4 linked regions of the Homo sapiens genome follow. The protein of the gene in region 4 interacts with the protein of the main gene of each other region in a biochemical or structural test. Each region holds a gene or a part of one and is shown on either strand. Other genes may lie near its edges.

Region 1 (7,317 bases), on a different chromosome or scaffold from region 4:
GGGCGAGACTTGCACTGTCTGTCCTCAGGATCCCCCCTTTCTGTTCCACTCGTTGAATGGTCCAGAACGCACCCCCCAACACCAAGTCTGTGCCGCAGGACGGCCGTTGTCCAGCAGGGACCCACGGGCTCACCCGGGCCGCCGCAGACCTGGCCGTTGTAGCGCTCACAGTTGATGGTGTCACACTCGCAGTACTGCCCGTATATCAGCTTGCCGGGGACGTCGCTGGTGTGGCACAGGCACTGCCCGCAGACACAGTCCCCCAGCCCTGAGCAGATGATGGAGTTGTTGTCCTTCCGGCAGCTTCCTTCCAGCTCCTGGCTGCTCCGGCCCTGTGTCTGGCACTCACAGTTTTTCCCAATGTAGCCAGTGTCACACCTGGGGACAGGAGGGGCCCCAAGGTCAGGCTCCCCCCAGTGATGTGGGACAAGGGACAGCCGCCCTGTCCTCCAGGCCCCTTGCCCTTGGTGGAGAACACCCCTATGGCACATTTTGCTTTCCTCGAGGCCTACTGAGCACTTGCCACGGACTAAATGTGCTCAAAACGTGCAGGGGCCCCGCGTTCCCTCCCCAGGATGTCCCGAGGGGAAAGCAGACACCTGGCCTTGGCCTGCGCATGCAGTGGCTCGGCAGGCTCACTGTGGAGCTGTGTTGCAGCCATGCACATGGCCTGTGCTGCGATACCGGTGCTCTGTGAGTGGCTGGTGTCTGCTCCTGCGTGCCCCACATGGTGGCCAGTGGGGACTCGGCACTGCCTCCTGCCACAGCCCCGCCCTCCCTCCTGCGTTCGTGCACTGACAGGCCAGGTTGTGGGAGAATGCAGGGACAAGGGGTTTTTACAGATGTGGAAGCTGGCATCAAGCCGCTGGCAGGCAGGAGCCACACACACCCTGAGGCATCCTCAGAGACGGCACTGCCACGGGCTCTCCTGCTCCCCAGAGGAGGAAGCTGCAGGACCGAGTGTCTGAGTACCTGTGGCAGGGCACCCCCCGACACCTGCCAAGTGTTCCGACTGAGTCACCCCTACAGTCCCGTGAAGAGGCCGCCCCAGGGCTGCACACCCAGGACAGTGGGCGGGGTGGCCACTGAGGCACGAGGACAGCAACAGAGACCACCAAGACCACAGAGACCATCATTGTCCTGAGATATGGGAGGAGGCTGGGGGCAGCAGGGACCTGAAGGTGAGGAAGGGCACTGCCACCAGGACGTGGATTGGCACTGCGGTCAGGACAGGGGAGGAGGTGACCAGAGCAAAGGGGGCAGAGTCCTGGGAGGTCAGCCTAGCAGCTCTGGCCAGGCAAGCAAGGAAAGGGGGACAGCCATCCAGCCCCCGGGCAGGCCGCCTGGCTGAGTGCCATGTGAACCTCCCCACTGGGTCCACCTGTCCCCCACTTCTCCCTGAGGTGGGGTGCCCACGCCTGGCAGGGGGTGTGCACGCCCAAGAGGTGGCCTATGGGGCCCAGGCTCCCAGAAGCCATCACCTGTCCCAGGAGGCTCTCTAGCCACCCATGCCCCAGGGCTGCCAGCCTGATGGCCTTGGGTCCCCAAGGTCAGAGAGAAGCCAGCTCCTAGGGTCAAGGAAGGTCGGGCAGAGAAAGTGACCCACTCAAGGCCATGGGCACGCCCAGCGGGGACTCCTTGTGCCCCTGAGATGGGCCTCCATCCTCTGGTGAGGGGGTCCTCCTGCCCACAAGTCCCCTGCCTTGGGTCCTCCATGGCCAGAGAGTGTAGAGTACAGGCTGGCATTGCTGGTGCCCTGGCTCAGGAGCACGGGTGAGGGCTTGCCGAGGGGTTCTGGGTTCCAATCCCAAATCTCCCCACCTCCTGCAGAAGGGGGCCCCCAGGATGCCTGCTCCGTGGGGTGGGGGAAGGGATGGAGCCACCTGCACCCACCTCACCTGCCGACACCTGCCCTGTGGGGTGGGGCTCGGGGATGGTTCAACAGGGACCTGCGCCCGCCTCACCTGCAGATGCCGCACTCCAAGAAGCCCTTGCCATGGCAGAGGCTGCGGTCTCTGCTCTGGTCCCGGCACCGGCACTCACACTGGGGAAGAACCTGCACGGTCACTATGTCCGTGAAGCCCAGCGCCCGGATGACAAACGACTGCTCCTGGATGCACTCTGTGGCCGTGACCTTCACCTGGAAGGTGATCTGCAGGGCAGTGCTGGGCTCAGGTGGGGACCCTCGGTGGCCAGGGTGGCAGCCCAGCTCCCAACCCTCACCTCCTGGCCTCTGCAGGGGTCCTGGGGGGTTCAGCGTGGGGAGGAAGGGGTGACCAGGAGCAGGAAGAGCTGATGCTCAGATCCGAGAGCCAAAGTCAGCCGGCAAGGAGGTGCTCTGCCCGCACTCCCGCACTGGCCGGCACCAGGATCTCCCCGGCCACACATCAGCAGAGACATGTGACACGCAGACAGCAAATCAGGAGAAGCTGAGCACACTCCCACTCAGACCACCCAACATGAGGGAAACGTTCTGGTGAGAATCCATGGGACAGCTGGGCGCCGCGGCTCACGCCTGTAATCCCAGCACTGTGGGAGGCCGAGGCGGGTAGATCATCTGAGGGCAAGAGTTTGAGACCAGCCTGGCCAACATGGCGAAACTCTGTCTCTACTAAAAATACAAAAATTAGCCGAGCGTGGTGGCACACGCCTGTAGTCCCAGCTACTCAGGAGGCTGAGTCAGGAGAATCACTTGGATTGTAGTGAGCCAAGATCGCACCAGTGCACTCCAGCCTGGGCGACAGAGCGAAACTCCATCTCAAAAAAAAAAAAAAAAAAAAAAATCCACAGGCAACATTTACCAAGAAACATGTTTGAAGGAATTCCAAAGTCATATTAAGAAAATGCAATGAAAGCAAGTGTCTTGCTGAATATTATTTCACAGCTAGCAAAAAAAAAAACAAAAAACAAAAAACAAAAAGAAACAACAAATGATTGGATAATAAACTTAAACCTGAAAGATTAGAGAAGGAACTCAGTGTCCATTCCTAACCACCTGTGTGGCCCATGCCTTAATGTTTCTGTCAAAAAAACAGAATGAAACACGCAGAAAATCATGACAACTAACCCTACCCAGGTTTGCCGTTTGCGCCTGTTCTGTGTGTCCGGCGTCTGCCCCCAGGGGGCGCAGCCATCACTCCATCCCTCAGTCTGCAGTGGCCTGACCCAGGGATTTGGGCTCCAGGTTGATGAGTAGGACTCTTGGGGGCCAAGGCGTGTGTGAAGAACCCTCCCAGCACCCTCTCACTGAGAAGCACCCTCTCGGCACCCTCTCACTGACGTTCCTGACATCAGCTTCACAAGGAAAGCGTCTGGCCTCGGCAGAGAGGATGTGAAGGAAAGAAACAGGGTCCTTCCAGTGGATGCTGCCTGCTCCCAGACAGCCTCTGATGCCTGTGTGCCCCTCCCTGCCCCCGTCAGAGTGCTGGGATGGGGACCCTGGCTCCTTCTGGCTGTCCCCAGGACCCCTCAGTGTGCTGGGATGGGGACCCTGGCTCCTTCTGGCTGTCCCCAGAGCCCCTCAGCAAGCTGGGATGGGGACCCTTGTGGCCAGGCTCACCGGGACATTGATCTGCACGCCATCACAGTCACCTCTGGGCTGGTTCCTGTGCGTCACTCCATTGCTGCAGAAGGAGTCGTAGGTGACTTTCAGGGTGTCGGGGAGGGCGTTGTGATCCAGGAAGACCCTGGAGGAGAGTTTCTGCGGGCAGAGAGCGGTTACTCTTGGGGGCGAGTGTTTCTGTTGTCCTGGCCCTGCCTGGCCCAGCGGTTTAGACCCGTCTCCACTTCTCCTCTCAGTGCAAGTCCCCAGTGTCAGCTAATGACACAGAGGAGAGCACAGCAGGATGTGCTGAGGATGGCAGGGCTGCCAGGGCCACAGTCCTGCCCTCGAGACAGCCTGACCACAGGGACTAGCATGGAGCCAGGGTGTGAGCCTCAGGGGTGGGAGCTTCTGCTGCTCCTCAGCCTTGAGTCCCCAGGACCTAGCACAGGGCAGGAGCTGCATAAATTGTTCAAGCGATAAGAGAGATGGGGAGAAACAGAGAGAGGCAGAGACAGACAGAGATGGGCAGAGCCAGAGCCAGAGACAGAGAGATGGAGAGAAACAGAGAGAGGCAGAGACAGAGACAGACAGAGATGGGGCAGAGACAGAGAGAGACAGACAGAGAGAGACAGAGAAAGAGAGACAAAGACTGAGAGACAGACGGAAATTGAGAGGAGGCAGAGGGACAGGTTCATAGGGGCATCGGGTGAATGGCCAGGGCAGTGGCGTCACCTGCATCCTCTGTGTAAGGACAGAAACACCTCGGGCAGTGGCTGGCACCCAGGAGGGTCTGCTCTGGGGGTTTGGGGCTCACGGGAGGCTACGAGAAGCAAATGGCACCTCCTCCACGGGCCTTCAGTTTAATTCAATGACCCAACGTTTGTCGGAGGCGCTAACGTGCTGAGCTCCCTCAAGCCAGCAGGACCTTTGGCCTAGAAGGATCCAGGCCAGAATTCTGAGAACATCTCTCACCTGGGGGTAGATTTCCAGAGCAGTCGGGACCTCTGGTGCCTGGGGCCCTGAATGGCACCTAGTGCGCACCTATGCCTACCTATGCCCACCAGGGCCATGGGCTCCCCAGGGGAGCAGCCCAGGGTGCAGCTCGATGGGCCGTGCACCAGGGAGAAATTCAGGGGTTAAGGGCTTCTCTGGAGCTTGCCCAGGACAGGTGAACAGAGCAAGAGGAATTCCACCCCCCAGGGTGTCTTCCCAGGGCCCAAGTCCACTGTGGGGGTTTCCTGTGGCCTCCTCCTGCCCCAGCTGCACTGTTTGCCACCAGAGCTGTCCACCTCCCTTCTCCATAGAGACCCGCAGAGAAGAGTCTGGAATGAAGAGTCCGGAGCTCAGGTTTCAGGGAGCATCGCCCACAACATCAACGAGAGAGGACCCAGAGCTCCCCGTGGAAGTGCCGGGCCAGGGTGTCCTGGAGGCCTGAGGGCAGGTCGGGAGGCTGCAGCTGGCCCACGGGGCAGGGGCTTTCCTCCCAGACCACCCTCCTGCTGACCTGCAGCAGGAGCTGACCTGCAGTGGGGAGATTGCTGGCCACCCCATGGGTCCCAGCTGAGTGGTGCGGGAGACTCACATTGTAAGCATTCTTAATGAGATGGACCACATTGCTGGAGTCCTCAGACAGCTCCCCCACGGCTGACTTGGGGATGATCTCGGTGAGTTTCTGTTGGGCAAGAAGACCAGACATGGCACGGCTAGGACCTGTGCCACGGCATCTCCACGCACTGGGCTCACCCCAGGGGCTTCTGCACCTGCAAAATGGCTGGGACGGTCCTCAACGCAGTTTTGCACTTGGTCCCCAGAGTGTGTGGTCAGTGATGTGTGGTAAGAGGTTCTTGGGGGTAAAAAGCCCTGAGCTGCCCAGGGGCCACGCCTGGAATACCAGTACTCGGGAGGCCGATGTGGGAAGATTGCCTGAGCCCAGGAGTTCAGGACCAGCCTGGGCAACATAAGAAGACCCCATCTCTACAAAAAGTACAAATATTAGAGTGGTGTGGCGTCACATGCCTGTAGTACCAGATACTCGGGAGGCTGAGGCAGGAGGATCACTTAAACCCAGGAGGTGGAGGTTGCAGTGAGCTGAGATCGCACCACTGCACTCCAGCCTGGGCGACAGAGCAAGACCTTGTCTCAAAAAAACAAAACAAAACAAAAAAAACCCAGGCCAGGCATGATGGCTCACGCCTGTGATCCCAGCACTTTGGGAGGCCAAAGTGGGTGGATCACTGAGGTCAGGAGTTTGAGACCAGCCTGGCCAACATGGTGAAACCCCGTCTCTACTAAAAATACAAAAATTAGCTGGGCGTGGTGGTGGGCACCTGTAAGCCCAGCTACTCAGGAGACTGAGGCAGGAGAACCCAGGAGGCGGAGGTCGCAATGAGCTGAGATCACACCATGGCACTCCAGCCTGGGCAACAAGAGCAAAACTCTGTCTCAATAAAATAAAATGAAATGAAATGAAATGAAATGAAATGAAATAAAAAAATAAATAAAATAAAATAAAATAAATAAAAAATAAAAAAAAAATTACTGTTGCATCATGAGGATAAGAAAAGAAAGCAAAGCCCTGAGCTGCAGCATTGTCCAGGCCTGCCCGTGTGAGTCCTCCTGCCTGCGGTGTGAGTGATCCCGCCTGCGGTGTGAGTGCTCCCGCCTGCGGTGTGAGTGATCCCGCCTGCAGTGTGAGTGATCCTGCCTGCGGTGTGACTGCTCCCGCCTGTGGTGTGAGTACTCCTGCCTGTGGTGTGAGTGATCCTGCCTGGTGGATTTCAAGCTCGCAATATCACTGGGTTGGGAGGACGTGCATGGTGGCCAGTGTTGGCCAGAATTTCCACCACACAGGTAGGGAATTCCTACCACCACACAGATGGTAGGCGGAAGTAGCCCCACGAGGGTGGATCACAGTAAAATCACCAGGAAGCCATCGGCTCTTGGCACTCTACTGAGTTTCCATGGGTGTTAAACAGCCCGGTGACATCGGTTCTGGCCGGCCAGATGCACAGGGGCGCAGCCAGCCTCCCCCATGCTCACACATGCTCAGCTTCTTTCATGGAAGATTGCGGCATCATTTCACCTTCCAGGAACACGGAGCAGATGGTCGGGTCACCTCCCCGCCCAAACCCTCCCATGACTGCCCTGCATGGGCCCAGTCCCTTCCATGGAGCTCCTGGGGCCGGTCACAGCCTGGCCACCACCCTCCTCTGCGCCCTCCGCCCACCGCCCACTTCCATCCGTCCCAGTCTGGGGCCATCCCTGTCTTGGGAGAGCTGGGCCCTCCCACATCCTGTCCTGCTGAGCCTGCTGTGCGCTTGGTGCAGAAACACACTCGGAGGGGGCGTGGCACGTGTGTCCACACTCGCTGCCTGTTGCCTTGACCACCCCCGAAGGTGACCAGGAAAGGCTGAGGAAGGCTTGTGTGCCCCAAGGCTCAGCAGTAGGCATGGGGTGCACTCTACCTGCCTCCAGTGCCTGGCCCTGGTGCCACACCATCGCCTGGAGTCTGGCTGCCATGACAAATGGCAAAGGATTGGGACCTGCTACTGCTGGTGAGGAGGGGACCGTCATGGCCACCTACAGATGGGACACAGGGCTGTGACATCCTGACCAGCAGGTGGTCTCTGTGGATGTCCGGCCCCAGCCCTGCCCTGCGCTGACCCACTGTCCCGGCAGCCTGACCAGCTCTGGGTGCCCACTCGGAGGGTCCCCCAGACACCTGCCCCCATCCCGTGTCTCCCGCAGGGTCCTGCTCCCACTCCAGAGCCCGG
Region 2 (8,259 bases), on a different chromosome or scaffold from region 4:
GTAACCTGAGTCATTGTTAGGTATGCTAGTAGAACAATGGAATCTAGTTTGCCTTTCTAAAAACCTGTTGAAAGATAAGGACTGACAGAGGCTGTGCAGGTGGCTCAGGCTTGTAATCGCAGCACTTTGGGAGGCCAAGGCAGGAGGGATCACTTGAGGTCAGGAGTTCGAGACCAGTCTGGCCAACATGGCGAAATCCCGCCCTACTAAAAATACAAAAATTAGCTGGACATGGTGGCGTGCTCCTGTAATCCCAGCTACTCGGGAGGGGTTGAGGCATAAGAATTGCTTGAACCCAGGAGGTGGAGGTTGCAGTGAGCCGAGATAGTGCCACTGCACTCCAGCCTGGGCAACAGAGTGAGACTCCATTTAAAATGGTAGTAATAATGATAATAAGGAGAGATAGAAAAAAAAATAGTGAAAAGAAGCAGATGGAAGATTTTATGAGATAATTTTACAACCTCGAATGAGGGTCTTGGGTTCCCACAAGACCCTTCCCTGAGTGAGTTGGTGCAGCTGGCTGAGGGCTCCTCCCCTCCTGGCCCCTCCTGGGCCTCTCCCGCAGACCTGTCCTTTCCATTATTTCCCTACTCGTGCTTGTCACTGTGCACACTTACCCCTCCTCCTTCTACTGTGAGTGATCATCCTGACTCATCAAATATGCGGGGAAAATGGAAACCTTATTTCGGACCCAAGTTTTTGAAGATGAGTGATAGTTGGATTGCCTCAGTGGGGCAGGAGATCCATTATCTAGCTCATTTTCACGAGGTAGATGCCAACTGAATTACAGTCCACTGATTTATTAGAGCTGTTTAAAGACAGGTGATCCAGTGTTCATTTCTCAAATGCTATAAAGATAATTTGATTGATTATATGCCCTTTGTGTTTAGGGAACCCAATATCCACAAGAATTAAGAGTCACCATTCTTATGCAAAAATCAAAGCCACTTTGATTTAAGAAATGCAGCAAGGGACCCGTGAGGGAAACCTTGAGCCTGGCTCTACCTGAGACAATGGCACCTGGGACAGCTGCTTAAAGACAAGGAAGAGAACACTAACCACCAAGAAAATGTCTCTACTGTGCACCAAGGAATTAGAGTTCAGAAACAGTGGTGTTAACTTTACCTGCTTAGCAAGATAGAGTTTGGTGGTAGAGGATCTCTTGGTCCTGGATTTATACACGTGGAGAAGCTGCCAGGGGGCCAGGAGCCATAGGTAGCCCAAGGGAATCCACACCAGAACAGTTTGCTCAAAACAAAGTGGCAGGTCTGCCTCCGGACTGTCCAGGAATGAGGAATTCTGGAGACCAAAGGGGAAGGATTGTTGCATACATGCATTGTGAAGACAGAAAACCACCCTGCAGCACATCCCACTGCTTTCACACAATTTAAATTCAACTCCATATCCATATCCAGCCTTACCCTTTAACTATCCGTATTTTCCTATTTGTGCACATGGATACAAATTCACCATTTAATGACAAATGTAGTCACTTTCTGGCCAACCCACCCTCCAAAAACGTGTCTTCTTGTGATTCTAAGTGAATTTTGTACCAGCTATTCTGAGTAAACCTCACCACTGCATTTGCCAAATTATAGGATGAAGAAGGACTGTTCCCCAGTTTAAAGGACAGAATAGTTCCCTGGGATATAAAAAATTATTCAAGTTTCTAGCACTAACTGAACTCACTGGCAGATATTCAAACATGCAGGCGCCATGCAGGGAGAATGCTTAGTCATACTGTAACATTTGCTCTCTGATGGCCCAAAGCGCTTACATTAAAAACCTGGCCAGTTTCAGCACAGCAGTGACAACAGCATTGTTGGACAGAAGGCTTCCAACCAGCAAGTTTTGTGCAGTCTTTGCATTCTGCGATAAATGGAAGTGTCTTGTGAAGTGGAAGTTGGGGGGTGGGGGGTGGGCACCAATTCTTGTATCTGAGTCACATGAGTGTGGATTTTTCTTTTCCTATAAATAGTTAAAAATTGTTTTATATGATTATTTATACAGACTCTTTAAAGAATTGCTTGCGATGCCCTGACCAAGAAAGTTTGTCAGGTAGTTCTCAGAAAGAATTCTCAAGAGATGGCCTGTCTAGATACTATAGCCCATGAAGATCCACCTTGCCGTGGTATACACTCCTGGCCTCGAGGGTCTTGGGACCCAGGTCCTTTCTAAGACACGAGGTGCTGCCCAGGTGCTCTGCTATCTCATCCCTGCCCCTCTCACCTCTATATAAGGTTATCAAATGTTAGAATTCAGAAGAATCACTTAAGATACTTAAACTACATTTATTGCCCCAGGTGATTCTGATGCTGAGGCTAGGAGTTTGCAGATGATACTTTCTCACCAAACCCTTACTAAAATCACTAAATCTAAGGTCCTTTTTTGTTTTCTATTCCACTAGACCTTTGATACTGTTGATTGGCCCCTATCTTGAAATTTTTTGCTATCTATGACTCCGTAATGTTACACTGTTCTTGTTCACCCTCTAAGTGGTGTCTCTTCTTTTCCTTAAAAACAATATTACCCAACTCTAGTTGTTCAAAAATTATTTCAATGCTCATGATGCCCAAAGTTGCATCCCTAGACTCAACTTCTAGTCCATATCATTAGTTGCCAGTTCTAGAACTTATCATTATCATTTCAACATCAACATGTCTCAGCAAGACTCAGTCACGGATCTTCTCTTCCTTCTACTAGCAAAGTATGCAACAACAATTCTCCTTCCTCACACGGATTAAATTGGAAGGTTTTTACCTGTTTCTCTTTAGAGAAGGCAATTTTGCGACTAGCTAGTACAAGAGTCTGATATAAAAAAACATATGACAGAGAATAATTTGCATTACATTTCCCAGATCTTATATCCTCTGGAGATATTATGAATTATGCTTTCTAAAAAGCCTGAGCTTTAGACCAATTGCACATCTAACATTTCTGGTTCTTGTTGGTGACCACCCTAAGTTAACTAACTACCACTTGTTCTGAGTCTGAGAAGAGTCAATATGAAGATAAATGTAATTTCTCACCCAAAAAGTAGAGTTGCAGAACTTCTCCAGCATGATTCCTGGACTGCGTCTGGAACGAAGACTCTTCTATTAATATGATTGTGTTGTTTCTTCTTTACTTGTTTCATCAAAGAAAGTGGAACAGGAATTATCTACCATTCTGATGTTCTCCGTAAAGGATGACCTTTCATCCCAACCATTTAATCGTTAACCTTGCCTAGATGCATGTTACATTGAAACAGTGGATGGACATGTGACTAAAAAGCCCTAGGGACAGGGAGACTCACCAGTTCCCAAAGTACAAGAGGCCTCTGTAGGAGTGGCCATACATAAAAGGAACCACTGAAAGATGTCAACAGAGCTGGCCAACAAATCAAGAGTGCACAGTCTTTCATTTTCCTAAGGACATATGACCCACAAAGGGCAGCATCAGTAGAGGGGCAGGCACCCCTAAATGTGCAGTTTCGCTTCTGCTGCAAGATCTTAGAGTTTATAGAAATGTGAAATATCCTTCTTCCTTAGATTTTTAATTAAAAATATAGAATCTAAAACATGGTTTAAACATGATGTAAACTTTCTTTGAAGAAGTCAGGTTATAAAATAGCTTATCCAGTGTGAGCCTATATGTTATATACATAATACAGGCTTTCAAAAGTTCTATTTGCCTGAGAGGTAGTATGCCAAATGGGAATGAAGCCTTTGCCAGGCATTGTAAATATGATATCATGATAAAACATCAGGGCCAGAGGAGAGGGGTGATTCTGTAAACAGAGTGGTGGCATCAGTCGCTAGAAACTGTCATCGACCCAACCTTTTCTTTTTTTGTTATTGTTTTTTGTTTTTTGAGACAGGGTCTTGGTCTGTTGCCTGAGCTAGAGTGCAGTGTTGCCATCATGATTCATTGCAGCCTTGACCTCATGGGTTCAAGCGATCTTCCTGCCTCAGCTTCCTGAGTAGCTGGGACTACAGGCACATGCCAACAAGCCCAGCTAATTAAAAAAATGTTTTCTGTAGGGACGGGGTCTCACTATGTTGCCCAGGCTGGTCTCAAACTCCAGGCTTCAACAATCCTTCTGCCTTGGCCTCCCAAAGGGCTGGGATTGCAGGCATGAGCTACCGTGCCCCACCTGACCCAACCTTTTGTACTGTCACTTAAATTGCTTTAAGAACATGCTTTTTTCATGATATCATGAACCACCCATGCGGTATCCTAGCTAAAACATAACCACCCATGCAGTATCCTAGCTAAAAAAAATTGGCCTTAAATCTGGTCAAATTCTAGATCTAACTACCGGATTATAAGAAACACAGGAACATGCTAAAGGACTCCATTGGAATGCAATTGTCAAAATCCAGAATGTGGGAGATTCTATAGTGCAAATGATTCCATTTTTTAATAAATAAATTAAAAGAAGGAAAGGAGTCAAAGGAACTTACAAATTACAAGAGAATCAAGAGGCATATCAGCCAAATGTGAATTGTATGGACCTTGTTACTGATTTTAAAAGTCAAGTATACACATAAAAAAAATGAAAAGGCAGCATTCAGTGTGGGAGAAAATATTTGCAGACCATATAACTGATGAAGAGTTAATATCCACAATATACTATAAGGAACTCATACAACTCAATAGCAAACATACACTAACAAATTAAAAAGTGGGCAAAGGACTTGAACAGACACTTTTCCAAAGAAGACATATAAATGGCCAACAGGTATATGACAACTGAATCAACTTCACAAGTCATCTGGAAAACACAAATCAAAACCACAGTTAGATACCACCTCATACCTATTAGGATGGCTATTACAAAAAAAAAAAAAAAACAACAAGATAAGTGCTGGCAAGGGTGTGGAGAAAAGGGAACCCTAGTATACTGTTGATGGAAATGTAAATTGGTCTGACCATTATGAAAACATATGGCAGTTTCTCCATCATTTTCCATACCACTCACCAGAAGAGCCAGGAAAGGTCAGCTGTGGAACTAAGAGATCTCACTTGGGGCAGGGTGCACCTTTAGGCTGCATACTTCTCTTGGCACTGGTGGTAGGACTCGGAGTCCGGGGGAACTCTTGGTAAAACTTTGAGAAATATAAGGTCAAGGATTAACACCTAATTTTCTTTTTTTAATTTTTTTGTAGAGCCTCAAACTCCTGGGCTCAAGCGATCCATTCGCCTCGGCCTCCCAAACTGCTGGGATTACAGGCATGAGCCATCGTGTCTGGCCTAAACGTTCTAAGTAATCAAAAAAAGAGAGGGTGGAGAATCTAAATGTTCATCAAAACAAGTTGCTTAAAGTATAAAATATGTACTCATAGGGAATATTGAATGAGAAAAGCAAGTAAGGAGCCAGGAAGTCATGAATCTTTCCTAACAATAACTAAAAATCTGAACAAATAGAAAAATCAATAACTCTTCTTAGATCTGTAGAGAGATAAGGTTACAGGGCAAACTGAAGAGATAAACAAGAGAATATCAAAAATCACAATTTACTGGCGCAGAAATCTCAGCAGGGGCCGGGCGCGGTGGCTCACGCTTGTAATCCCAGCACTTTGGGAGGCCGAGGCGGGCGGATCACGAGGTCAGGAGATCGAGACCACAGTGAAACCCTGTCTCTACTAAAAATACAAAAAATTGGCCGGGCGTGGTGCCGGGCGCCTGTAGTCCCAGCTACTCGGAGATGCTGAGGCAGGAGAATGGCGTGAACCCGGGAAGCGGAGCTTGCAGTGACTTGAGATCACGCCACTGCACTCCAGCCTGGGCAACAGAGACACTGTCTCAAAAAAAAAAAAAAAAAAAAAAAGAAAAAAGAAAAGAAATCTCAGCAGGAACCAGGGCTAGGGCAGGAAAACCTGAACTGTAATTGAATTGCCGGAGGCCCAGTGTAGATAAGTTTGAGAGAGAAAAATTCCAGAGTGACTCAGCCATAAGGAGGGGATGATCTCCACACTTTCATGAGTTTACCCATAGGAATTCAAAGAGGTTCTCAAATATTGTTCTCTTTTTATTAGAGAAAAATCTCCTCCTGCTTCCATGTCCCTGGCAGAGGGGATAGGAAAAGTAACCATTTGAAATATACCTGGACACTCTATTCTTCTCTTCTAAACAAAGTCTGCCCTTGGGAAAAACTGTTTAAATAGAGCCTAATGCTCTTGATTTATAGGAGCCTAAATGATGCCGGAGAAGGGAAATAAGAACTCCAGTCTCTTCTAGCCTTCCACATGAAAACTGAAAATACCCAGCTGCAGCCCACTCTAGCCATCACGTCCCACCTAACAGGGATCGGGGCAGATAGGAACTGAGAAGCACTTGTGAAATTCAGTCTAGAGACACAGGTTTACTAAAAGACTGAGACCTCTTCACAGAACTATAGAACTCTTCCTCTCCCCCTCCCCCACTGTATACCACACTACTAAAGGTCTAGTTACAGCACTTCCTTTTACTCCGTATATCCTGTCCAGCTATGAAGAAAACATTGCCAGGCATACTAAAAGGCAAAAAAAAAAAAAGAAAAAAAAAAGGCTTTAAAGAGACAGAGAGCAAGCCTCAGAACCAAACTCAGATATGACTGGGATGTTGGAATTATCAGACCAGAAATTTAAAACAACTATGATCACAATGCCAAGGGCTCTAATGGATAAAGTAGACAGCATACAAGAACAAATGGGTCGATGTAAGCAGAGAGTTTAAATTCTAAGAAAGAACTAAAAAGAAATAAATACTAGAGATCAAAAACACTGTAATAGAAATAAAGAATGCCTTTGATGGGCTTTTTGGTAGACTGAACAAGGCTGAAAACAGAATATTTGAACTTGAAAATAACTGCCAAAACTGCAAAAATAAGTAAGACTATATAAACAGAATCTCCAAGAACTATGGGACAACTACAAAGGGTATAACATATGTGTAATGGAAATAGCAGGAAGAGAATAACCAGAGAAAGGAACAGAATAAATATTTGAAGCAATAATGAAAGAGAATTTCCCTCATACTAATTTCAGACACCAAATCACAGATCACAGAAGTTGAGAGAACACCAAGTAGAACAAATGCCAAACAAACAAACAAAAGCCCTACAACCAGGCATGCATATATAAGTTGCAGGAAATCAAAGATAAAAAATTCTGAATGAAGCCCGGGGAAAAAGACCTTACTTGTAGAGGAGAAAAGATGAAAATTATGTCCAACTTTTCCTCAGCAAGCATGCAAGCAAGAAGAGAATGGAATGAAATATTTACAGTGGTGAGAGAAAAAAGCCACCAACAGCCAGCATTCTGTACCCACAAAATTATTCTTTAAAAGTAAAGAGAAGCCAGGCACAGTGGTGCGTGCCTATAGTCCCAGCTATTCAGGAGGCTGAGGTGGAGGGATTGCTTGATCCAAGAGTTTGAGTCCAGCCTGGGCAGCATAGTGAGACACTCTCTCTCTCTCTCTCTCTCTCTCTCTCTGTCTCTCTCTCTCTCTATATATATATATAAAATAATAATAAATACATAAATACATTCTCACACAAACAAAGACTGAGGGAATTTGTTGCCAGTAGACCTGCCTTGCAAGAAATGTTAAAAGAATTCCTATAGAGGAGTGGTCCCCAACCTTTTTGGCACCAGAGACCAATTTTGTGGGGAATGGTTTCAGGATGAAACTGTTCCACCTCAGATCATCAGGCATTAGATCTCATAAGGGTGTGCAACCTAGATCCCTCACATGCACACTTCACAATAGGGCTCACACTCCTATGAGAATCACATGCCTCTGCTGATCTGACAGGAGGTGGAGCTAAGAAGCCTGCTGCTCACCACCTGCTGTGCAGCCCTAACAGGCCTTGGACCAGCACCAGTTTGTGGCCCAGGTGCTGGGGACCCCTGCTTAAGAGAGAAGGAAAATGATATAGGTCAGAAATTTGGATTTACATAAAGAAAGGAAGAGCACTGGAGAAGAAATAAGGTGAAATAAATTATTTAATTCTAACTGACCTAAAAAATAGCAGTTCACTCAAAATAATAGCAACAATGTATTCAATCATGCATATTTCTGTGTATATTTTTAAATGCTTATGTATAACAAAAATGAATGACAGCAAAGACATAAGGGATGGGAGGGAGAATTAGGATTATTTTGTTATTATAAGGTACTCGCACTACCTGTAAAGTGCATAGTGTTCTTTGAAAGTGGACTTGGATTCATTGTAAATGTGTATTTAAAACTCTATGGCTGGGATCCTGGGCACTTTGGGAGGCTGAGGTGGGC
Region 3 (8,056 bases), on a different chromosome or scaffold from region 4:
AAAAAAGAGCCCAAATAACCAAAGCAATCCAAAGCAAAAAGAACAAAGACGGAGGCATCACACTACCCAACTTCAAACTACACTATAAAGCCACAGTAAACAAAACAACTTGGGTGGCTGGGCACAGTGGCTCACATCTGTAATCCCAGCACTTTGGGAGGCTGAGGTGGCCAGATCACTTGAGGTCAGGAGTTTGAAACCAGCCTGGCCAACATGGTGAAACCCCATCTCTACTAAAACATACACAAATCAGCCAGGCGTGGTGGCGGGCACCTGTAATTCCAGCTACTGGGGAGGCTGAGGCAGGAGAATTGCTTGAATCCAGGGGCATAGGTTGCAGTGAGCTGAGATCACACCATTGCACTCCAGCCTAGGCGACAGAGTGAGACTCAGTCTCAAAAACAAACAAACAAACAAATAAAGACAGCTTGGTAGTGGTACAAAAACAGACACATAGACCAATGGAACAGAATAGAGAACTCAGAAATAAAGCTGCACAGCTACAACCATCTGATCTTTGACAAGGCCAACCAAAACAAGCAGTGGGAAAACAATTCCATATTCAGTAAATGGTGCTGAGATAACTGGCTAGCCATATGCAGAAGATTGAAGCTGGGCCCATACCTTTCTCCATATGCAAAAATTAACTAAAAATGGATTAAAGATTTTAATGTAAGATCTCAAACTATAGAAATCCTGGAAGAAAACCTAGGAAATACTCTTTTCGACATTGGCCTTGGTAAAGAATTTTTGGCTAAGTCCCTAAAAGCAATTGCAATAAAACCAGAAATAGACCAGTGGGACCTCATTAAACTAAAGAGCTTCTGTACAGCAAAAGAAACTATCAGCAGAGCAAACAGACAACCTACAGAATGGGAGAAGATATTTGCAAACTATGTATCTGACAAAGGTCTAATACTCAGAATCTATAGGGAACTTGAAAAAATTAACAAGTAAAAACCAAATAACACCATTAAAAAGTGGGCAAATGACATGAACAGGCACTTTTCGAAAGAAGACATACAAATGGCCAACAAATATATGAAACAATACTCAGCATCACTATCATCAGAGAAATGCAAATCAAAACCACAATGAGATACCATCTCACACCAGTCAGAATGGCTATTACTAAAAAGTCAAAAAACAACAGATGCTGGCTGGCAAGGCAGCAGAGAAAAGCAAACACTTATACACTGTTGGTGGAAATGTAAATTAGTCCAGCCGCTGTGGAAAGCAGTCTGGAGATTTCTGAAAGAACTTAAAACAATTCTACCACTGGACACAGCAATCCCATTACTGGGTATGTACCCAAAAGAAATTATTCTACCAAAAAGACACATGCACTTGTATGTTCATCACTGCACTGTTCACAATAGCAAAGACATGGAGTCAACCCAGGTTCCCATCAGTGGTAAATGGGATAAAGAAAATGTGCTACATATACATTATGGAATACTAGGCAGCCATAAAAAAGAAAGAAATCATTCTTTGCAGCAACATGCACGGAGCTGGAGGCCATAATTCTAAGCAAGTTAGTGCAGGAACAGAAAACCAAATACCACATGTTCTCATTTATGAAGGGAGCTAAGCATTGAGCACACATGGACATTAATATGGGAACAACAGATATTGTGGACTACTAGAGGGTGCAGGGAGGTGGGGAGGATAAAAAAAAAAACAACTATTGGGTACTATGCTCACTACCAGGATGACAGGATCTGTACCTTAAGCCTCAGCATCATGTAATATTCCCATATGACAAATCTGCACATGTACCCCCTTATCTAAAATTAAAGTTGAAAAAAAATGAAACAAAATGACATTGAACTTCTCAATAGCAACACTGGATTCTACAAACTAATGGAAAAATAAACACAAAATCAGGGGGGAAAAGGTTTTTCAGCTTGGAACTTTATACTGCGTCAGACTCTCAAACAAAAATAAAGGTTGTCTAAGATATTTTCAGACATAATTATTATTATTATTATTATTAATAAAAGTTTATAACCCATATAAAGAAGTTAGTAGAGAATGTATTCCCCAAAAAAATGATGAAGTACATCAATGAAGAGCAAGACAATGAATCTAGGAAATAATGATCCGATACAGGAGCACAGACAAAGGGAATTTCAGAAAGAGATGTGCAGCTAGCCGGCAGAGTAACCAGCTCAGATGAAAAAAGAAGGATGGAGGGCTCTGGGAGGGAGCTGCTCCCATCCCTTTCTACCTCTTTCTCACCAAGTTTGGTGAGTTTTCCTTAGGATCTTTTTGGGCCCCTCAAGCAACTTTCAAGAACCTTGCATATCAGAGAAAAAAAGGGTTGGAGTTTCCAATCCTTTCATTCTGAGAAGACCTCTAGGTTCTTCATATAAACAGTCCCACTCCTTCCCCAGAAACTTTCTACCTCCACAAATAAATACTATAGAGGCAAGAATAAAATGTGGTTTTGCCTCACTAGAGACCCTGCTTTAAAAAATGTGAGAAACATCACCATATTCTTTTGGAAGATTGCCCTCAAGACCTCCCATTTTTCTTTGCTCTCCAAGTCTACATCCCCCCGGCTACCTTCTGGGGACCAAGGTAGTTCTTCTTGGTCTGGAAAATTTGCGTGCTTAAAAAGAACTGGACACAAATAATGGAATGGTCTTTTACCCACTGAAAATAAATAATCTGCTGTCCAAATTTATAAGCCAACCATATGCAAGTTCACAAGGCAATTTCTCAAGTCCTAATCCCTAGACGGCTCAGAGACTGAGGCCCATACATTGCATAGGAACCACACCAAGGTACAGCCATCCCATGAAGCCCAGGTGCACACCAGATTTGTTATACTAATAGTTCCAGGTTTACAGTGGTGAAGTTCTAATCCAGAGTTGAGAAATTCCCACCTGCCTTTACTTGGGAATCCTAATTATTTTAGAAAAAACTGAACAGTAGACAAAGAACTGTCAGAGAAACCCAAAGCAGGCTATTGCGGTCTGTATGGACAGATACACCTTTACAAGAACTGCACTGTGTCCTGCAAATCATTGGTCCTAGAAATGGGGGATTCTGGGGAAAAGGGGAAACTACTACAAGAATGAAAATGACTGGCTATGGGGGATGCTATCTATAAAAATATTCCAAGACTGACCCACTCATTGCCCCAATCCATTTCTTATATTACTCTAAGGTAAAGAAATACTTACCACAAATGTTTGTCCTTAAGACTGTCGCAGCTCATTCTGTTTCCTCGGCCAAAAGAATGTACAATACTCTCTGCCTGCTCCAAGAACAAAAGCCTTCTTGCTCTTAACATGAAAAAAAGTTTCAAAGCCAATCTGATGTCAGCAACTGAAAGTGTAGAGAAGCCTTGACTTGAAGTAGAACCCAGAAACAAAATTATAAATCATACACTGTATCACAGTAGAGGAAGGAGACCTAATTTTTTTTTTTATTTACAAGGACAAATCTGGAGAAACAGAACGCCCACTCAAGAGTTAGCCCGACAGTTTGAAAACAAAATACTTCTGCACAAAATGCAGAAGAAGCTGGGCATATCTTTTTTTGTACACGACAAATAAAAATTGTATGGTGTACAATATGATTTCTGATGTATGTATACATCCTGGAATGGCTAAATCAAGCTAATTAATACTTTCTTTACCTCACATATGTATCCTTTTTGTGGTGGGAACATGTAAAATCTACTCTCTTAGCAGTTTTCAAGTACACAATATATTGTTATTAACTATAGTTATCATGATGTACAATAGGTTTCTTGGCAGGGCGCAGCGGCTCACACCTGTAATCCCAGCACTTTGGGGGGCCGAGGTGGGTGGATCACTTGAGGTCACGAGTTCGAGACAAGCCTGGCCAACATGGTGAAACCTCATATCTACTAAAAATACAAAAATTAGCTGGGTGTGATGGCGGACACCTGTAATCCCACCTACTCAGGAGGCTGAGGCAGGAGAATCGCTTGAAGCCAAGAGGCAGAGGTTGCAGTGAGCTGAGATCACACCACTGCACTCCAGCCTGGGCAATAAAGTAAGACTCCATCTCAAAAAATATATACAAATAAAAATATGAAAAAAAATTTAAAAATTAAAAAATAGATCTCTTGATCTTTGTCCTCCTGTCTACGTGTAATGATGCATCCTTTGACCAACATCTCCCAAAACCCTGCCCCATCCTCTGGAAACCACCATTCTACTTTCTACTTCTATGAGTTTGACTTTTTTAGATTCCCCATAGGAGTGAGATCATACAGTATTTTTCTTTCTGTGTCTGGATTATTTCACTTAGCATAATGTCCACTAGGTTCATCCGTACTGTCACAAATGACAGAATTTCATTCTTTTTTAAAGGCTGAATAGCATTTGTGTATATATAGTATAGTATATATAGCATATACTATATACATAGCATATATAGCATATACTATATACATAGCATATATAGCATATACTATATACATAGCATATATAGCATATACTATATACATAGCATATATAGCATATACTATATACATAGTATATATAGCATATACTATGTATATAGTATATGCTATATATACTATGTATATAGTATATATAGCATATACTATATACATAGCATATATAGCATATACTATATACATAGCATATATAGCATATACTATATATACGAATGCTATTCGTATATATATACACTATATAGACACGAATGCTATCATTCATATATATATATATATATATATATATATACAGTATATATAAAAAATATTTTCTTGAGGTTGCTTCCATATCTTGGCTATTGTGAAGAGTGCTGCAATGAACATGGGAGTGTAGATATCTCTTTGACAGACTGATTTCATTTTCTTTGGATATATACCCAGTAGTGGCATTGCTGGATCATATGGTAATTGATAATATGACCATAAATGCCTGGATTTTTTCTGGGCCAGAACATTCATACTGTTTTCCATAGTGGCTGTGCTAATTTACATTCCCACCAACAAGGGCTCCCTTTTCTCCACATCCTCACAAGCACTTGTTATCTTATGTTTTTGATAATTGCTACCCTAACAGGTGCAAAATGTTATCTAAATGTGGTTTTAATTTGCATTTTTGTGATGATAAGTGATGTTGAACATTTTGTCATATACTGGTTGGCCATTTGTATGTCTTCTTTTTAAGAAATGTCTACTCAGGTTCTTTGACCATTTTTAATTGGGTTATTTACTACTTTTTGCTATTGAGTTGAGTTCTTTATATATCTTGGGTATTAACCACTTATCAGATGTATGGTCTGTAAGTATTTTTCCCATTCCATAGATGGTCTTTTGACTCAGTTGTTTCCTTTGATGTACAGAAAACTTTTTAGTTTAATGCTATCCCATTTGTCTATATTTCCTTTTGTTGTCTGTGCTTTTGGGGTCATATCCAAAAAATCTCTGCCTAGACTAATGTCAAGAAACTTTTCTTCTATGTTACTTATTTTGAATTGACACATAGCAAATACATACATATGTATATATATATATATATATATATATAAAATTTATGGAGTGCAGTGTGATGTTTTAATACATGTATACACTGTATAATGATGAAATCAGGGTAATTAGCATATCCATGACCTCATATATTTGTCATATCTTTGTGGTGAGAACATTCAGTTTGAGGTCTTACCTTTAAGTCTTTAATCCATTTTGAGTTGATTTTTGCACATGGTGTGAGATGTGTCTAATTTCATTGTTTTGCATGTGTATATCCAGTTTTCCCAACACCATTTATTGATGAGGCTGTCTTTTCTCCATTGTGTGTTTTTGGCAACTTTTTTGAAGAACAGTTGACCATAAATGCCTGGATTTATTTCTGGGCCAGAAGATCTTTAAGGTATGTCCCAACCTTAATATATGTAGATAAAGGTAAATATATATATCCAGAAAAGCTTATTAAAATACTATCATCCTTACTTGGTTCTTTTTTGTATGTTATCTATATAATTGAAAATGGACATGCATTTACTTTACAACAAGAAAATATAACACATATTTTTAAAAGATACCAAAAATAGAAGTGATCCTTTTAAAACTTAAGTGAGATTATGTCACTCCTCTGTTCATAATATTCCAGACTTCTACTGGAATTCAGAATCAAATCTAATGTCCTTATCATAGTCTACACAGCTCTACATGCTCTCATCCTTCCATACCTAATTTCAACTCCTACCAATCTCCCTCCATTTTGGTCACAGTGACCTCCTGGCAGTACCTCCAATATGCCATGAAAGCTCCTATCTTGGGGTCTGGGCATTTGCTGTTCACATGGCCTGGATTCCCCTTCATCCATATATATGAATGGCTCCCTCTCTCACTTAATTCAGTTCTCTGCTCAAATGTCACCTTGTCAGAGAGAACTTCTTTTACTACCATATCTAAAGTAGCACCTGCTATCATTCTCGGAATATTTGCTTTGATTGCATAAACACTAAAACTTTCTGTGCAATATAAAAGATACATTCTTAATGATTAATTGACACAGAGAAAAATATTTGTGAAATACATGACAACATGCACATATTCTAATATACAGAATTATAATGAGTAAAAAAGGTGAGCAACTTAATAGGACAATGGGTGAAGGAAGTGTAATTGACAAAAGAGGAAATATAAACACCCACATGTACATGGAAAATCTATTGGAACTCACAAATAAGCAAAGAAAAGCTAATATTACCAAGAGTAAACACTATTTTTCCTTTAATCCAGGAGTTGGCAAATTTTTTTTTCTGTAAACAGCTAAGATAATAGAAATGTCCCCCTTTGTGGGCCACATATAGTCTTGGTCAGACATTCTTCATTACCTTTTTTTCCCTACAGCCCTAAAGATGCTGACTGGGTTGCTGACCCCAGATCTATGAGGAATGATTAAAGATGGAGAGCACTTAATGCTGAGAATGGGGAGGGTAAACTGGCTGACTGTTGTTGCGGGCACAGATTCATATAGCTTTTCTCAAAGACAGTTTGTCATGTACATATCTTTTGCCCCAGGAATTCCACATTTTTGACTTTACACCAAGAAGCTACTCGGGCAGGAATGGAAATATTTTTGTACAGAATACATTGCCATGTTATTCATAATAGCAGGCAAGAGGAGGAGGAGAAATTTATATAATAAACTAGGAAATAGTTAAACCATGTGCATGAAATAAATGAAATGCCACACAGCTATTTAAAAGTCATATATATATGAATTAATTTATATAGAACAATCATACGACTTTTTATGGTTTAAAATTATAGTGTGTATAACATAGTTCAATAGATACAAAATTATATATGTATATATGTTGTGTATATGTGTATATATACATATACATATTCAAAAAAATATGGTTACCTCAGGGGGGTTGTGATACTAAGTGACTTTTATGTTTATATTATTAGGTATTGCTTGATTTTGAGCAAGTATCGTCAGTATAATCAGAAAAAAATAAAATTCTTATTGAATTTAGCAAAACCTCAGGTCAATTAAAATGGACTTTTGCCTGAAGTGCAACAGTTTTCTAAACTTATTCTTACAATATAATAATGCAAGATAGTTTTCACAATTTGAACAAATAGTTTTTATGGGTTTTGTTTGCTTTCTGGTTTGTTTCTTGTACCAAAAGGACAGAGTTACTTGTTAACTTGTCTTAAAAATATTCTTTTGGGAATTCTATGATTTATGCATTTTAATCTCTGCCACCTCTTTTCTCCAACTCTCTGTGAACACTCATTGGCACCATACTGGTGTGATATTCCCAACCCAGGGCACAGAGAGTGGAGGTACAAGAAAATCACCCCACTGACCACTGTACAAGAGAAGCTAGGGAGTGGAAGAGTTGAGAGGAGAGGGATAATGAAAGGCATCCGAGAAAGTGCTCACTCAGAAAACGCACAGGGAACTTGTGTTCCCACATCGCTGTCTTTAATTTGCAGCCAAGCAATACTCAGTTACTCTATCATGGAAGCTTCCCATGTTTGAAAATGAAATTGTAAGTGAACAGAGGCATCAGAGCCCTGGTGTTAGGCACAGCACTTCAC
Region 4 (7,317 bases):
ATTAGAACCTCCTTCTAACTGGAAAGATTTCTTCAGTAAGCTATAACCGAAATTAATATAAACTAAAATTATAATTTCTAAAATAAGAATTAACAAACCAAATTTAAGTATTTTTAGTCAGAGATTGAAACAAAATAAGCACAGTGATCTAGAAACCAAATATACTGATTATGTAACTATCGTATCAAGGTACAGACATTCTTCACATGCTACAAGGTTAGCATTTCTCTCTCTCATACACACACAGAGTACACACACACACACACACACACACACACACAGTCTCTCTCTCATTCTCTCTCTCTCTTGCTCAGCCATACAACACCCCTCCAGGATGATAGTATACCAGTGAGGAGCTTACAATTTTAATACAAATCAGAATCCCACAGTTTGACTCGACAAAAAGGCAGTTAAAAATTTAGCACTCTTAAGATATTCTGAAGGAAAATGAAATTTCGAAAGTATTTCTTGATGATCGAGGCTATGGTTATGAATTATAAAACATATACCTTACACACTCCATTGTGTTTGAACAACCAGTCATCACAGATGTAGTAGTGAGGTAGTATTGTTGTCCCCTCCTCGGGACTGATGTTTTTATATGCTGCCCTTCCAGAAAAGGTCCAGGTTTTAAAAAATAACATTAGTTACCAACAAATGTATATTTTCTTTTTTTAACTAATCATTTGTTTTTCTAAATCAGTCTATAAAAGAACAAAACTTTTAAAATCTTGCAGAGGCTGTTTCATCAGTAAACTCTCCTAGGGAGCTACTACTGCTGTCTAAACCTCTGTGAAATGGTAGGCAAAAAAAGCCATCAAAGGATCACAGGAGATAAAACACCAATCAGTGTAAGCTGTTAAAGATGACTGTGATTAAATAACCAAATATCAAATATCCAATAAGGTAATTAAATTTAGATTAAAAAAAAACTAAGCACCAGCTGTACATACATTATTAAATGTTCTAATCTCTTTCCTGATTCATAGCCATATTCTACATGATGATCAAAGACTGTCCACTGTGCTACCTACCATCATTTTAAACACTGCCTGATCTGTATGATGGTGGAATTATGGCTATGGACATGGCAGATAAGAGAAGGGCACACTGAGAAAATGTGAGTGAGAGAGAATGTGGAAATAGGTTAAATATGGAAAGGGCAAGGGAAACCCATTAAAATGTTCACCATTATCCTTTAAAATGTACACAGAACTGAAACCACACATACACATTTGTCAGACGTGATAATTAGTGTTAATCTTCAACAGAAAAAAAAAAGAAAAAGAAAAAAAATGTGAAAAGAGGCAATGGAACACCATTCTCCATTCCCTGGACCAAAAGAAAAAAGAAAACCAAGCATGATATCATACTGCCTTAATGTTGAAGAGCTCCCCTTAAATTTGTCTTTTAGCTAGCACAGTCAAACTGGTGTAAGTGCTTTGGCAAGGTGGGATGCATTCCATCATATCTGCAAAGGCCTGCTTTTCTCTGTTGGTGGTTCAGCTTATGAAGAACATATATGCAAAATAACAGCTCTCACATTGCTTCAAACTCATCGATACGCTGCTTTGTATTGCCTTGTCGAATCTGTCGCAGAGTCTTGTACTTATCACGGCCTGCTTTAACATTCTCAGCATGAAGAACATCATTTTGTGTTTTCTTGGTTTCATCTCTGGCTTGGGCTAATTCTGAACTTAATGCCTATTTAAAAAATAAAAAGTACAACTATTATTTTTTTCTTAGATTTAAAAAAATTTATGAAAATGGCTTTAAGATGCAAAAATACATATACCAAATCATTTCCACTGTGAAACCTTTTTCTTTAGGTATAAGTTTGTTTTAGTAATAGTGGTGGCAGTGGTAAGGGAGGAATACACATGGCCTTTCCACATTTATCAACCATGGTATTTTGTACATTATTCTAAATTTCCTTAACTTTCTAATCTAATACTTGAAATGGCTAAAAAGTTCAATGTAGCCATTACAGACTAATATTACTATGAGATTTAAAATCTATACCTCAAGGGAAGCCTTCTCCAAAAGTCTTAATACATTTATTGTAACTATCACCTCATTTTCTTTTAATATTTAAAGATTTTAACAATTAAAATATTAGATAACTTATTGGGAAAAAAGAAAGCTCATAATATTAAAATCCTCTACTTTGACCTAGTTATGTCCATGTAATATACTGACCTTTTGCCAATATAAAATCTCAACAAATAATTAAGATTATGTAATGTCTTAAACATAGTATATTAACTATCATTCTTTCCAATGTACATTTTATTTTATTTTATTTTTTTGAGACAGAGTCACTTACTATTGTCCAGGCTGAAGTGCAGTGGCATGATCTCGGCTCACTGCAACCTCCACCTCCCAGGTTCAAGCAATACCTCAGCCTCCCAAGTAACTGGGATTACAGGCTCATACCACCATACCCGGCTAATTTTTGTATTTTTGGTAGAGGCAGAGTTTCACCATGTTGGCCAGGCTGGTCTTGAACTCCTGGCCTCAGGCAGTCCACCTGCCTCGGCCTCCCAGAGTGCTGGGATTACAGGTGTGAGCCACTGCGCCTGGCCCTCAATGTACATATTACTGATCAAAAACTAAATTCACGTTTTTCAACATGACATTAGAATACTTTCTACCTTTTAAAATGGGTCAAGCTGTAATTAAATAACTCACTAGTTAAGGTCTGATTATACAAAGCTAACAGGTATTTGCTAATGGGTTCACACAACGGAAGAAATGAAATAACATGACTATAGGCCAAACACCCACAAACCAATCACAAGGGCAGCCAGTATTAAAACTTCTATATTCTTTTTAACTAAGTTTGTCTAAGATGGGGAAAATGCAAACTATATTTCAAATGCACATACAACTGCAAATTTTAAATACCTGAAGTTGCTTCTTAACACGCTCATTTTTCTGTGTTTCGGTTACACGTTCTTCCTCGCTTCTATGGTTCATTACCCCTTCATTTGATAATTCAGCACTAGCTTCAGCATTATTCTCATCGTGTTCATCATGTTCGTTTTCTGTTGGAGGAATGACTGGTGGTGGTGGAGGTGGAGGGGGGGCAGACATCACAGTTTTTAACTCTTCTTTGGTCTTTTCCAAGTCTTCCTGGGCTGCAAAAGCCTGAACATTAAAAATACGTTTATGAGCAACTTACTTCAAAAATTAATAATCAAAACAATCAAGTTATACTCCCTTTTTAATAGAAACTGTATTTCAAGGTAATGAAAATAGGCCCTATTTATGAAACCTCTATTTTCATAAAAGAATGTCAACAGGTAAAAGAGAAAATCAAAAACATTATTATGCAAACCCTATTAGAATTACTCTGTGAGCTTCAAAGTGACAGATTAAAAGAAAAACAAGCATACATGCAAAAAAAGAACTATTAATTCTGGCAAGGATTATCAATTGTTTGCTAAAACTGTTGTGCAAATAGTTGATGAGAAATAGATATTCATATAATGCCTAAGAATCTCACACCCAATAGATTTTATTTGAGCCACAAGGGGAAAATGTAACCGAATAACGGAGGAATGAGACTGTCGTTACTCAAATCCAATGATCACTAAAAAATACTAATGGTGAGTTAACTAGATATTAAGTGTCTTCTGATATGATACAACCTGAAATATCTAACATCACCAATTATTTGGGTGATCATATTATCTTGGTTTACCTGGAAAAGTCCTGTTACACTGTTGTCCTGGTGTAATTATGAACAATACCCCCTTTTTCTCAAAAGTACTCCAGTTTAGATGTTCAATTATATGGAAGTCTCACCTTTGATGCACTGTAGTCAAAACATTTAATTTGAATTCCCCAGGTTCTAGATCTAACTTCTGGTTCAAAGGAAATACTGGAGTTAAAGGATAAGGTCAATGACACAAGGAAGTAACTAAACAAATATAGGAGGTGAGACATTCTGTAGGTCCCTTCAATAAATCAAAATAATAAAAAGAGAAACTGCCCTCCATTAAAAGAGACTTACAGCAAATACAGACAATGCAAAGTCCTCTGAACACTTGTCTGGCAAATTAGCTATGAGACTTTTTGGGAAATTCTTAATATAGTCTAATATTCTGAGATGAAAATTGACTAAAATGAAATAGTACATACAGTAAGATTTCATGTTGAATATATAAACAGGAAGTATCCTGGAAGAATATGTACTAAGGTTTTGCAGTATTTCCCCTAGTTTATGGGAATACAATTGTCTTTTGTGTGCATTTTCTAATTTTCTATAATTCACAGACTTGATATCTGTAATATGCTAATTTTTTAAAGTTTATGTGTCTCTAAATTTCATAAATCATCCCTAAAAGGGATCTAAAAAATTCTAATAAACAAGTAGAGTAACTGGGAAATTAACAGTAGCATTCCTTTTGTAGTTTTATTTATATATAACTAATTTTCAATACATATAAAATTACCCAATGAAATTTAAACTGCTACAAAGATTTACTTAAGAGTGCAAGAAAACTGTTTTCTGTATAAGTACATTTTATTGTAGAAAAATCATCTTCTAAAACTAAATATCATCTTTGGGGGTAAAAAAATTATCTTTTCAGTTAAGAGTTAATGTTGTTTGAATTAAACTCTCATTATCTTATATTCCCCCACTCTCCAACCAAAGCCTGATTTTACAATTGTGTGCTACTTTAGACAACAGTGGTTTCATCTACTTAGGACTCATATTAGAAATCTCGGTGTCAGCTGCACACAGTGGCTTACACCTACAATCCCAGCACTTTGGGGGCTGAGATGGGAGGGCTGCTTGAGGCCAGCAGTTCAAGACCAACCTGGGTTACACAGCAAGACCTCCATTCTCAACAAAAATAAAAATGATGGTGCATGCCTGTAGTCTCGGCTACTGCAGAGGCTGAGGTGGGAGGATCCCTTGAGCCCAGGAGTTCAAAGCTGCAATGAATTATGATTGTGCCACTGCACTCCAGCCTGGGACACAGAGTAAGACCATGTCTCTAAAAAAATAAAAATAATTCAACTTCATATCCAATCACTGGTTCCCATGCCTTTTTGTGACCACAAAATGTCTCTTATATCTTCCCATTCCTCTTTATTCTCATTTTCACATCCTCAGTTTGGGTCTTTATCTCTTAAGTATCCACTATCCCAATCCTTTCTTCACACTGATCACTACATGGTTTTTATAAAATCATATCTGATCATGTTACAATCCTGTTTTGAAATCTTCTAAGCCCCAAGTCAATCGATACTCCCACTGCCTTGCTGTAGCAGAGCATTTATTTAAAGCCTTTCACAATTCCCTATTATCAAACTTGAGGGCCACATCTCCTAACATTTCTGAACAACACTAAGCCTCGGCTGCTTATTGGTTATCCTCAAATCTATTATATACATTCATACTTCCTATACTCATTCAGTTCCCTCTGTCTAGAATGACTACTTCTTCAGTCTCTAACTATTCCCAATTTTACATCCCAATCTTTTGTACCCCCAAAATTTAATTCATTATTCAAGACCCAGCTTAAATGTATATGGGTCTCCCGACAACTCTCTGGTCCCCCAGAAATTAATCACCTCTTCTGTGTTCCCAAAGTACTTGGTTTATATCTGTAGATAGATATTTACAATACACATAACACGAGTATCTTTCCCACTCTAAATTATGACAGTATCTTACACTTATCACTACAAAGTCAGCATAATCCTGGGTATAAAAGCTATTCAATAAAAGCTAGTAAATGAATAAATGATTACTTTGTGTTGCCACTCAGTAGCTTCCTCTTCCTTTTTCTTCTTGGCTTCCTCTAGAAGTGCAATCTTGGCAGTGAATTCAGCAAGTTCTGCTGCCTAAAGTAAACAATATAATTCCAAAATTAAAATAACATATTTTGAATAATCTTATAAGTCAACAAAGTTTTAATGCACATGCTTAGGCTGTTTATGTTTTTCTTAGCCTTCCATTTAAAAAAATACAGTATTTCTTAAGATCTTAAATAGCTTATTTACAATAAGTCCTTTAGGTAATGAGCTAAGGAGACAAAATTAAAAAATTACTATTATTCTACAGACTAGTTAATCCTGCTTTCAGTAGCAGGAACTTAAAATGTGTAACTTAAAAGCTTTTTTAAAAAATTTCCATCAATAAACTATTTGTTAAAGTCCACAAAAGATAAAATATTTATCTAATGCTATATACTTTAAATGGCACTTTGTCAAATCATCTCATTTAATACCCCAATAATCCTAACAGGTAGTATCATTAACAGGTAGTATCATTCCTCCTTTTTTTTTTTTCAGACAGAGTCTCGTTCTGTCACCCAGGCTGGAGCCCAGTGGCACAATCTCAGCTCACCGCAACCTCCGCCTGCCAGGTTCAAGCAATACTCCTGCTTCAGCCTCCCGAGTAGCTGGGATTACAGGCGTGCACCACTGTGCCTGGCTAATTTTGTATTTTTAGTAGAGACAGGGTTTCGCCATGTTGGTCAGGGTGGTCTTGAACTCCTGACCTCAGGTGATCCACCTGCCTCGGCCTCCCAAAATGCTGGGATTACAGGCGTGAGCCACTGTGCCCGGCCATCATTCCTCTTTTCAAAGGGAGGGAACTGAGGCTCAGAAAGACCCAAAGACACATACATAGCAAGTACATGTGTGAACTAATATTTAAATCCAGGATCTTTTAAGTGACACGCTTACATCTAATTATTTGCAAGTCCACTAAATAAAAAAACCCAACCAATTATGGCCTCATAGGAACTATAACATATTATATATCTATAATATATTATATAACTATAACATATATCTATATTATATAACTATAACATATTAATTTATCTAAAGCAAAAGACGCCAACTGACTTATTACCGAACCTGTCCAATGTCAAAGTGAATCAGAACCTTTTGCTGACAGTAGACTCCATTTACAAATAATCTATAGAAAAATGCCTTATTCTTTTGTATTTTTAGGTTTTTGTTTAGGCAGAAATAAATTTTCTAGGTTTTTGTCTACATTTTGTTATTAAGTTACATGTTATCTTTGGCTTGCTCTCCAGAAAGCACAAAATGGTTGCTTTTCTTTTTTTCTTTTTTAGAGGGTTCACTCTATGCTTTTATTTAAACTTTTTTCTCTAAGAAGACAGTTCCTTACTAGCTGCTCCTGATTCTTCATCTGGTCGGCAGCTTGTTTTGCTATGGCAGACTTTGCCTCTTCAGCAGCTCGACGCTCCTTTTCAAGTCGTTCTGCTTCTTCTTTTGCTCGTTTTCGTTCTTGATCCAGTTCTAGAGCTTTTCGAGTCTGTTCTT

The links.
Region 1: the proteins of RDX (region 4) and ITGB2 form a complex in vitro, tested with the Homo sapiens proteins (one study listed by IntAct).
Region 2: the proteins of RDX (region 4) and ABCC2 form a complex in vitro, tested with the Homo sapiens proteins (one study listed by BioGRID).
Region 3: the proteins of RDX (region 4) and MCF2 form a complex in vitro, tested with the Homo sapiens proteins (one study listed by IntAct).

Annotation. Positions count from the first base shown.
Region 1 is NC_000021.9:44,889,845-44,897,161, forward strand, and holds part of ITGB2 (integrin beta-2 isoform 1 precursor), read right to left. Parts: intron 5,217-7,317; coding exon 5,127-5,216; intron 3,701-5,126; coding exon 3,560-3,700; intron 2,153-3,559; coding exon 1,965-2,152; intron 379-1,964; coding exon 134-378; intron 1-133.
Region 2 is NC_000010.11:99,777,648-99,785,906, reverse strand, and holds the start of ABCC2 (ATP-binding cassette sub-family C member 2), read right to left. Parts: upstream 3,268-8,259; 5' UTR 3,063-3,267; coding exon 3,030-3,062; intron 1,300-3,029; coding exon 1,126-1,299; intron 1-1,125. UniProt on the Homo sapiens protein: ATP-dependent transporter of the ATP-binding cassette (ABC) family that binds and hydrolyzes ATP to enable active transport of various substrates including many drugs, toxicants and endogenous compound across cell membranes.
Region 3 is NC_000023.11:139,704,915-139,712,970, forward strand, and holds the start of MCF2 (proto-oncogene DBL), read right to left. Parts: upstream 3,254-8,056; 5' UTR 3,192-3,253; intron 1-3,191. UniProt on the Homo sapiens protein: Guanine nucleotide exchange factor (GEF) that modulates the Rho family of GTPases. Promotes the conversion of some member of the Rho family GTPase from the GDP-bound to the GTP-bound form. Isoform 1 exhibits no activity toward RHOA, RAC1 or CDC42.
Region 4 is NC_000011.10:110,230,330-110,237,646, forward strand, and holds part of RDX (radixin), read right to left. Parts: coding exon 7,163-7,317; intron 5,863-7,162; coding exon 5,770-5,862; intron 3,151-5,769; coding exon 2,908-3,150; intron 1,705-2,907; coding exon 1,540-1,704; 3' UTR 1-1,539. UniProt on the Homo sapiens protein: Probably plays a crucial role in the binding of the barbed end of actin filaments to the plasma membrane.